Homo sapiens: one gene and its partner. The protein of the gene in region 1 purifies or fractionates together with the protein of each later gene. This does not show direct contact. Each region holds a gene or a part of one and is shown in the gene's direction. Other genes may lie near its edges.

What was found. Proteins that work in one complex are often made in the same cells at the same time.
Region 2: the proteins of TACC2 (region 1) and LARP1 fractionate together in Homo sapiens (co-fractionation; one large-scale study listed by BioGRID). This does not show direct contact.

What each region holds. Positions count from the first base shown.
Region 1 is NC_000010.11:122,209,137-122,212,787, forward strand, and holds part of TACC2 (transforming acidic coiled-coil-containing protein 2), read left to right. Parts: intron 1-737; exon of another isoform or gene 738-833; intron 834-1,260; coding exon 1,261-2,572; intron 2,573-3,651. UniProt on the Homo sapiens protein: Plays a role in the microtubule-dependent coupling of the nucleus and the centrosome. Involved in the processes that regulate centrosome-mediated interkinetic nuclear migration (INM) of neural progenitors.
Region 2 is NC_000005.10:154,803,798-154,807,448, forward strand, and holds part of LARP1 (la-related protein 1), read left to right. Parts: intron 1-403; coding exon 404-510; intron 511-2,083; coding exon 2,084-2,235; intron 2,236-3,651. UniProt on the Homo sapiens protein: RNA-binding protein that regulates the translation of specific target mRNA species downstream of the mTORC1 complex, in function of growth signals and nutrient availability.

The sequences.
Region 1 (3,651 bases):
GAGAGGAGGCAGCTGGGAGAGCAGTGAGACTAGGCAAGAGGCAGGGCCAAGGATAGGCAGGCAGGACTGAAGGAGAGGTTACAGGTGATGGCTGGAGCGGCAGGTGGCAGACAGCAAGTGCTACTACAGGTGCCGGGGGCCTCCGTGTACAGGCTCCCCTGATCTTCACAGTGGCTCTGAGGAGTCAAGAACAGGCTTGCTGGTGGCCGTGGCTAGTATGAATATTTATGGAAGCCTCCGTATGCCTTCCTGCAGGATTTCTCTGTCTTCCTGTCCCACTCTTGACCCTTGCTTTAGCCACACTGGCCTCCTCGCTGTTTCTGTAACGCACCAGGTGCTCCTGCCGCAGAGCCTTTACTCGCACTATTCCTTCTACCCAGGATGCTTCCTCCCCAGGAGTCCTCCTGTTTCATGCACTTACCTTGATTCTGGCCTTTGCTTAGATGTCTCCTCAGAAGATCTTGCCTGACTACCTTATTTTAAAAGTGAAACTCTCCTATCCCGGCTTTATTTTTCTCCTTAGCATGTATCACCCTCTGAAATTCTGTACATTGTTTGTTTGTTTTTGAGACAGAGTCTCACTCACTCTGTCACCCAGGCTAGAGTACAGTGGCGCAATCTCGGCTCTCTGCAACCTCTGGCTCCCAGGCTCAAGCGATTCTCCTGCCTCAGGCTCCGGAATAGCTGGGATTACAGGCGCTCACCACCATGCCTGGCTAATTTTTGTGTTTTTTTAGTAGAGACTGGGTTTCACCATGATGACCAGGCTGGTCTCAAACTCCTGACCTCAAGTGATCTGCCTGCCTCGGCCTCCCAAAGTGCTGGGATTACAGGTGTGAGACACCATGCCCGGCCCTGGTGGTTTATTCGCTATCTTCCCCTGAAGAATGTGACTTCCAGGAAGGGAAAGGTTTTGTCTATTTCTGTTCCTTGTTGAATCTCTAGTACCTAGAACCATGTCTGGTCCTGATTAGGCACTTGGTGAATGTTTTTGAATGAATACTCTGAGCTGTTCTTTAATCGGTCCTCATGATCCTCATTGTACAGATGAGGGAACTCTGGGCGAACCTGGCCTGGGTCTTGAGCTAATTACGGGTAGGTCAGGTTCTGTACCCAAGTAGTACACACAGTGATGGGCGGGGTGGCCTGGGGCCGTGGTTTGTCAACCCCTACGCTGGAGGGTGATGTTTTGGTACAAGAGGAGAGGTGCCCCAATGCGTCCTGTGTCTGTAATTGATGGCGTTGTCTGTGTTTCCCCAGGATGTGGTTCTGAGACAGTCCCTGTCCCTGATGGCCCACGGAGCGACTCGGTGGAAGGAAGTCCCTTCCGTCCCCCGTCACACTCCTTCTCTGCCGTCTTCGATGAAGACAAGCCGATAGCCAGCAGTGGGACTTACAACTTGGACTTTGACAACATTGAGCTTGTGGATACCTTTCAGACCTTGGAGCCTCGTGCCTCAGACGCTAAGAATCAGGAGGGCAAAGTGAACACACGGAGGAAGTCCACGGATTCCGTCCCCATCTCTAAGTCTACACTGTCCCGGTCGCTCAGCCTGCAAGCCAGTGACTTTGATGGTGCTTCTTCCTCAGGCAATCCCGAGGCCGTGGCCCTTGCCCCAGATGCATATAGCACGGGTTCCAGCAGTGCTTCTAGTACCCTTAAGCGAACTAAAAAACCGAGGCCGCCTTCCTTAAAAAAGAAACAGACCACCAAGAAACCCACAGAGACCCCCCCAGTGAAGGAGACGCAACAGGAGCCAGATGAAGAGAGCCTTGTCCCCAGTGGGGAGAATCTAGCATCTGAGACGAAAACGGAATCTGCCAAGACGGAAGGTCCTAGCCCAGCCTTATTGGAGGAGACGCCCCTTGAGCCCGCTGTGGGGCCCAAAGCTGCCTGCCCTCTGGACTCAGAGAGTGCAGAAGGGGTTGTCCCCCCGGCTTCTGGAGGTGGCAGAGTGCAGAACTCACCCCCTGTCGGGAGGAAAACGCTGCCTCTTACCACGGCCCCGGAGGCAGGGGAGGTAACCCCATCGGATAGCGGGGGGCAAGAGGACTCTCCAGCCAAAGGGCTCTCCGTAAGGCTGGAGTTTGACTATTCTGAGGACAAGAGTAGTTGGGACAACCAGCAGGAAAACCCCCCTCCTACCAAAAAGATAGGCAAAAAGCCAGTTGCCAAAATGCCCCTGAGGAGGCCAAAGATGAAAAAGACACCCGAGAAACTTGACAACACTCCTGCCTCACCTCCCAGATCCCCTGCTGAACCCAATGACATCCCCATTGCTAAAGGTACTTACACCTTTGATATTGACAAGTGGGATGACCCCAATTTTAACCCTTTTTCTTCCACCTCAAAAATGCAGGAGTCTCCCAAACTGCCCCAACAATCATACAACTTTGACCCAGACACCTGTGATGAGTCCGTTGACCCCTTTAAGACATCCTCTAAGACCCCCAGCTCACCTTCTAAATCCCCAGCCTCCTTTGAGATCCCAGCCAGTGCTATGGAAGCCAATGGAGTGGACGGGGATGGGCTAAACAAGCCCGCCAAGAAGAAGAAGACGCCCCTAAAGACGTAAGTTCAGGGGTGGAGGTGGTAAGGATCAGAGGCGGGGGTGCGCATTGGCTGTGACCCTTGGTCATGTGCCTGGATAACCTTCGACTGCCCTAACCTTGCCCCTGGGTGCTGTGATGATGCCACGCTTACGGCCGTTGCACCAAGCAGACAATGTACGTGTTTTCCTTCCTCTCTGCGGTCACAGTGGTGGCATTTTCCCATCCACATACCCCTTTGTGTCCTTGATCTTTTGCTTTAATAAATCAATGGGCTGGAGCTTTACTTGTAGCCAAAGACCTAATGTTCAACTCCAGAGCAATCTGGGAGATCCCATGGAAGGGGAAAGGTCCTTAGAGATCTGGTTCATCTCCCTGTTGGTGACTGATTGCTTTTTGGAGAAGCTGGGAGATACACCCTTTAAAATATTAAAATGTATAGTACTTGTTTCTGCCTATTAATGAGACATTAGCCCAACCTACAAACATAGTAGATTCCAGGAGGCTCAGGAATGAGAGATGTGGCCTGGGCCCCTCCCTGCTGCACTCCAACCAGCCCGTAAGAAACACCCTTCTTTGTCTCCTTCCTTCTCTCCAGTCATCTTTTGTAGACAAAGTCCCTGCAAGTTCTGAAGAGATAAATGGAACCTGAAAGTGGGGAGCAAATCCCCACAATCCCCAGGAAGCCATTGGTCCTTGGCTCTATGGTCCCCAGACACTTGACAAGGCCAAGTACATCGTGCTTAAATATCAAACACCCATGCCTCCAGAATCCACCCCAGGACCCGGCTCTAATGTGGATGGCTGCTGGTCCTTTATTCTTTGGCCCCTGTGGTTAATATCTTGGCGATTTCCTTACTCTTACGGGAAGTATTGTCAGTAATTTAACAAGGCTGAGGAGATCAGTCTCCCAGGGGCAGCAGAACAGACCACAGCGCTGGCCCCTCTGGGTCTGCCTGGCACGAAAGAGACAGAACGACATGTTTACCTCCCATTCTGGGCTCCCCCTAACATTGAATTTCTGAGAAGAACCCAGGGCCTCCTGAGAGGAGGTCTCTACAGCAGGTTACCTTAGATCAACCTGCCACTGTCTAGTGGTGG
Region 2 (3,651 bases), on another chromosome or scaffold:
CCAGTGCTTTGCTTCTCTCCCTTGCCTTGTCTGAGCTAAGGAAGTGCTAAATCCTTCACCTGCTCTGTGTTCTGAGGCTGGTGGGCTTACCTAGGATTAGGTAGCCACATCTGCAAAATATACTGGGTGTGGGAGTGGTAACCCCATGTTGAAAGGCCTAAGGAGGATTGACCAGGTATGAGTCCTTGGGCAAATCACTGCATTCCCAAACCTTGATTTCTTCACCTGTTTGAAATAGGCATACCAGTTCCTAGCTCACCACTGTGAACTTTATACGAGAATGAATATGAAAATGCTGTTGTAAAATGTGAGAGATCATGCCCATCTTAGTCCTACAAGTGCTTGATGCTCCTCAGAGTTGTAGGAGTACAAACAGTAACAAACCCTGGGCTAACCTTTGCAGATGCCTCGAAAAAGAAAGACAAGACACAGTTCAAACCCACCCTTGGAGAGCCATGTGGGCTGGGTGATGGATTCCCGTGAGCACAGGCCCCGTACTGCTTCCATCAGGTACCTGGGGCAGTGGGGGAAGAGTGATCAGGCTGCCTATGGGATGGGTGGGCGAGCCATGAAATTGACTGGACCAAGAAGATTGGTCTGAAAATTAAAGGGACCCTCATCTAAGAGGTTTTCAAAAAACCAGTGGTGTGGAAAGCTCAGCCCAGGACCTGGGAATGACGGGTAGGCTTTTTTCCTAAAGAAGTGGTGTGGCAGTCACGTGAGACCAGATTTTCATACATGCAGAGAGAAAATCTCTGAATTGGTTTCCAAGCCTGGCTATCTACTTTCTGTCTGAGGAAGAATAGCCAGGTAGTTGAATAAACAGATTTCTGGCAGTCTCTCTGAGCCTACTATGTCTTGGGAGGCTACTTGAAAAGTTTTAAAAATTAAAAAAATACATATTTATTGGCCCCAACCTGTATCTGCTGACCCTGCTTCTTGGGGTAGGGCCCACACTCTTTTTTATTTATTTCAGTAAGATGGCCCCAGTGTGTGTTTCCTGTTTCCCAAAGCAAGCTTTGAGAGCCACCTACCTATGACCAATGCTCTCTACTCCCTGCAGAGATGGCACAGACTGCAAATAGGCATGCTTTTGAAGAAAATATACAATTGATCTTTGAACAACGAAGGGCGTGGGGTGCCCAGCTGCACACAGTTGAAAATCCGTGTATAACTTTTGACTCTCCAAAAGCCTACTGTTAACCAGAAGCCTTACCAATAACATATAGTCAATTAGCACATGTTTTGCATATTATATGTATTACATACTGTATTCTTACAATAAGCTAAATAAAAAATATTACTAAGAAAATCACAAAGAAGGGAACAACAAACACTGGGGCCTACTTGGTGGGGAGAGGGAGGAGAGTGAGGTACAGTTTACCTACTTAACAAACCTGTACACATACCTCTGAACCTAAAATAAAAGTTAAAATCATAAGAGAAAATATTTACTGTTCAGTAAGTGGAAGTAGAATCATCATAAAGGTCTTCATCGTCGTGGTCTTCATGTTTAGCAGGCTGAGAAGGAGGGGTTGGTCTTGCTCTCTCGAGTGGCAAAGGGGAATCATCATAAAGGTCCTCATCCTCATGGTCTTCACATTGAGCAGGCTGAGAAGGAGGGGTTGGTCTTGCTGTCTCAAGAGTGGCAAAGGTGGAAGAAATCTGCGTATAAGTGGACCCACGCGTGGATCCATGCATTTCAAACCCATGTTGTTCAAGGGTTCACTGTAGATGGATTGACCCATGATGGCTCATTAAAAGGTTAAATGCTTAAAGTTAATAAATGGTTAAAAGCTCAAGTTTTATCATTGGACACGTTTCTGCCATTAAATAGTCTTATGACCCTGGATGAGTCTCCTAATCTCTGTAAGCCTCAGTATCCTCTGTAAAACTCTCTGAGAGTTGATGCAGAGTTAATCAGACCCATGGATATAAGTTAAAGGTCCGTAACTGGGCCTCCTTGTTTGATACCCTGTGAGAGGATGGATCTTGGCTGACAGAACGGATCAGAGGGACCCCTCCTGACATGGTGGGGCTGCTGTGGGGAACCTGGTGACAGTATTTTTTGTGGTTTCTGTAGCTCCAGCCCCTCAGAAGGGACGCCTACAGTTGGCAGCTATGGCTGTACCCCTCAGTCATTGCCCAAGTTCCAGCATCCTTCCCATGAACTGCTCAAGGAAAATGGCTTCACACAACACGTCTACCATAAGTATCGTAGGCGCTGCCTTAATGGTAAGAAGTGTGGGGGGCAGGAGATGAGCCTCTGGGCCCGTTATTTAGACCCAGAGTATAAGAGTTGGGGGATACGGGGATAGGTGACTCTTTTCTCTGACTTCAGAGCAAAAAAAAGACATGACATTATAGCAAGAAAGACTGAAGTTAGACTCGGGCCAGGTAGTTTTAAACTGTAGGAAGCTAGGGGGATATGGCACTCACAACGTTCGTGTTCTTTGATCTTCCTCTATTGATTATTAAAGCTGTCAATTAAGTATTTCCATATCTCTGGCAAGATTACTGACTCAGCCATTGTCAGGTCTAGTCCACTGTCCATCACAAAAGGGTATGTAAGAGGTGACATATGCTCTCTAGAACAAAGGTTGCCAAACTGGCCTGTGAGTCAAATCCAGCCAGTATTCTGTTTTCGTATGGCTTTGGAGCTAAGGACAGTTTTTACATTTTTAAGGGGTTGTAAGAAAAAAAGATTTGTGACAGAGACTATATGTCTTCTGTAAAGCCTGAAATATTTGTTCTCTGTCCCTTTACAAAAGTAGTTTGCTGATCCCCTCTCTAGATGATAGTGTAAGGAACGAGCCTGTCTAGATGCTCTTGTCTGTCCCTGCTCTTTTAGTATTCTGATAGGTTGGCTGTAAAGACGCGCAAAACCAATCTAGTCACCTGTAGTTATTAACTCATTCATCCTCTTTCATTCAACAAAACGTGGTTGCTAAATTCTTGATTCATCCACTTCACTTCTCTCTTTCTTACTCTATGTGTAATAACAGCTTTATTGGGATATAATCTACATATGATGGAACATACCTAAAGAATACAATGTAATAGCTCTAAGTGTACTCATATAGTTGTGTGCCCATCACCAGAATCAATTTTAGAACATTTTCATTACCCCCAAAATGCTATGCCCCTTACCAGTCATACTCATTATACATGCAAACTACTCCCCACCCCCAGAATCCTCCCAGCCCTATGAAACTACTAACCTACTTTCTGCCTCTAAGGATTTTGCCTATTCTGGACATTTCACATAAATTATACTGTATGTGGTCCTTTGTTACTGGCCTCTTCCCCTTAGTATATTTGGTATACTAACAAATACACAGCAAGGTTCATGTCATAGCATGCATCAGTACTTTATTCTTTTTATTGCCAAATCATATTCCATCGTATGGATGTATCACATTTTGTGTATCCATTCATCAGTTGATTGGCATTTGGGTTGTTTCTACTTTTTGTCTATTGTGAATGATGCTACTGGGCATATTCACATACAGGTTTCCTGTAGACGTAGTTTCTCCTTTATTTTGGTTAGAAGAGTAGTATTGCTGGGTCATGGGGTAACCATGTTTAACCCTTTGACAAAATTAAACTCTGTTTTCCAAAGTGGAAATTTTGGAATTTTATATTGAAATA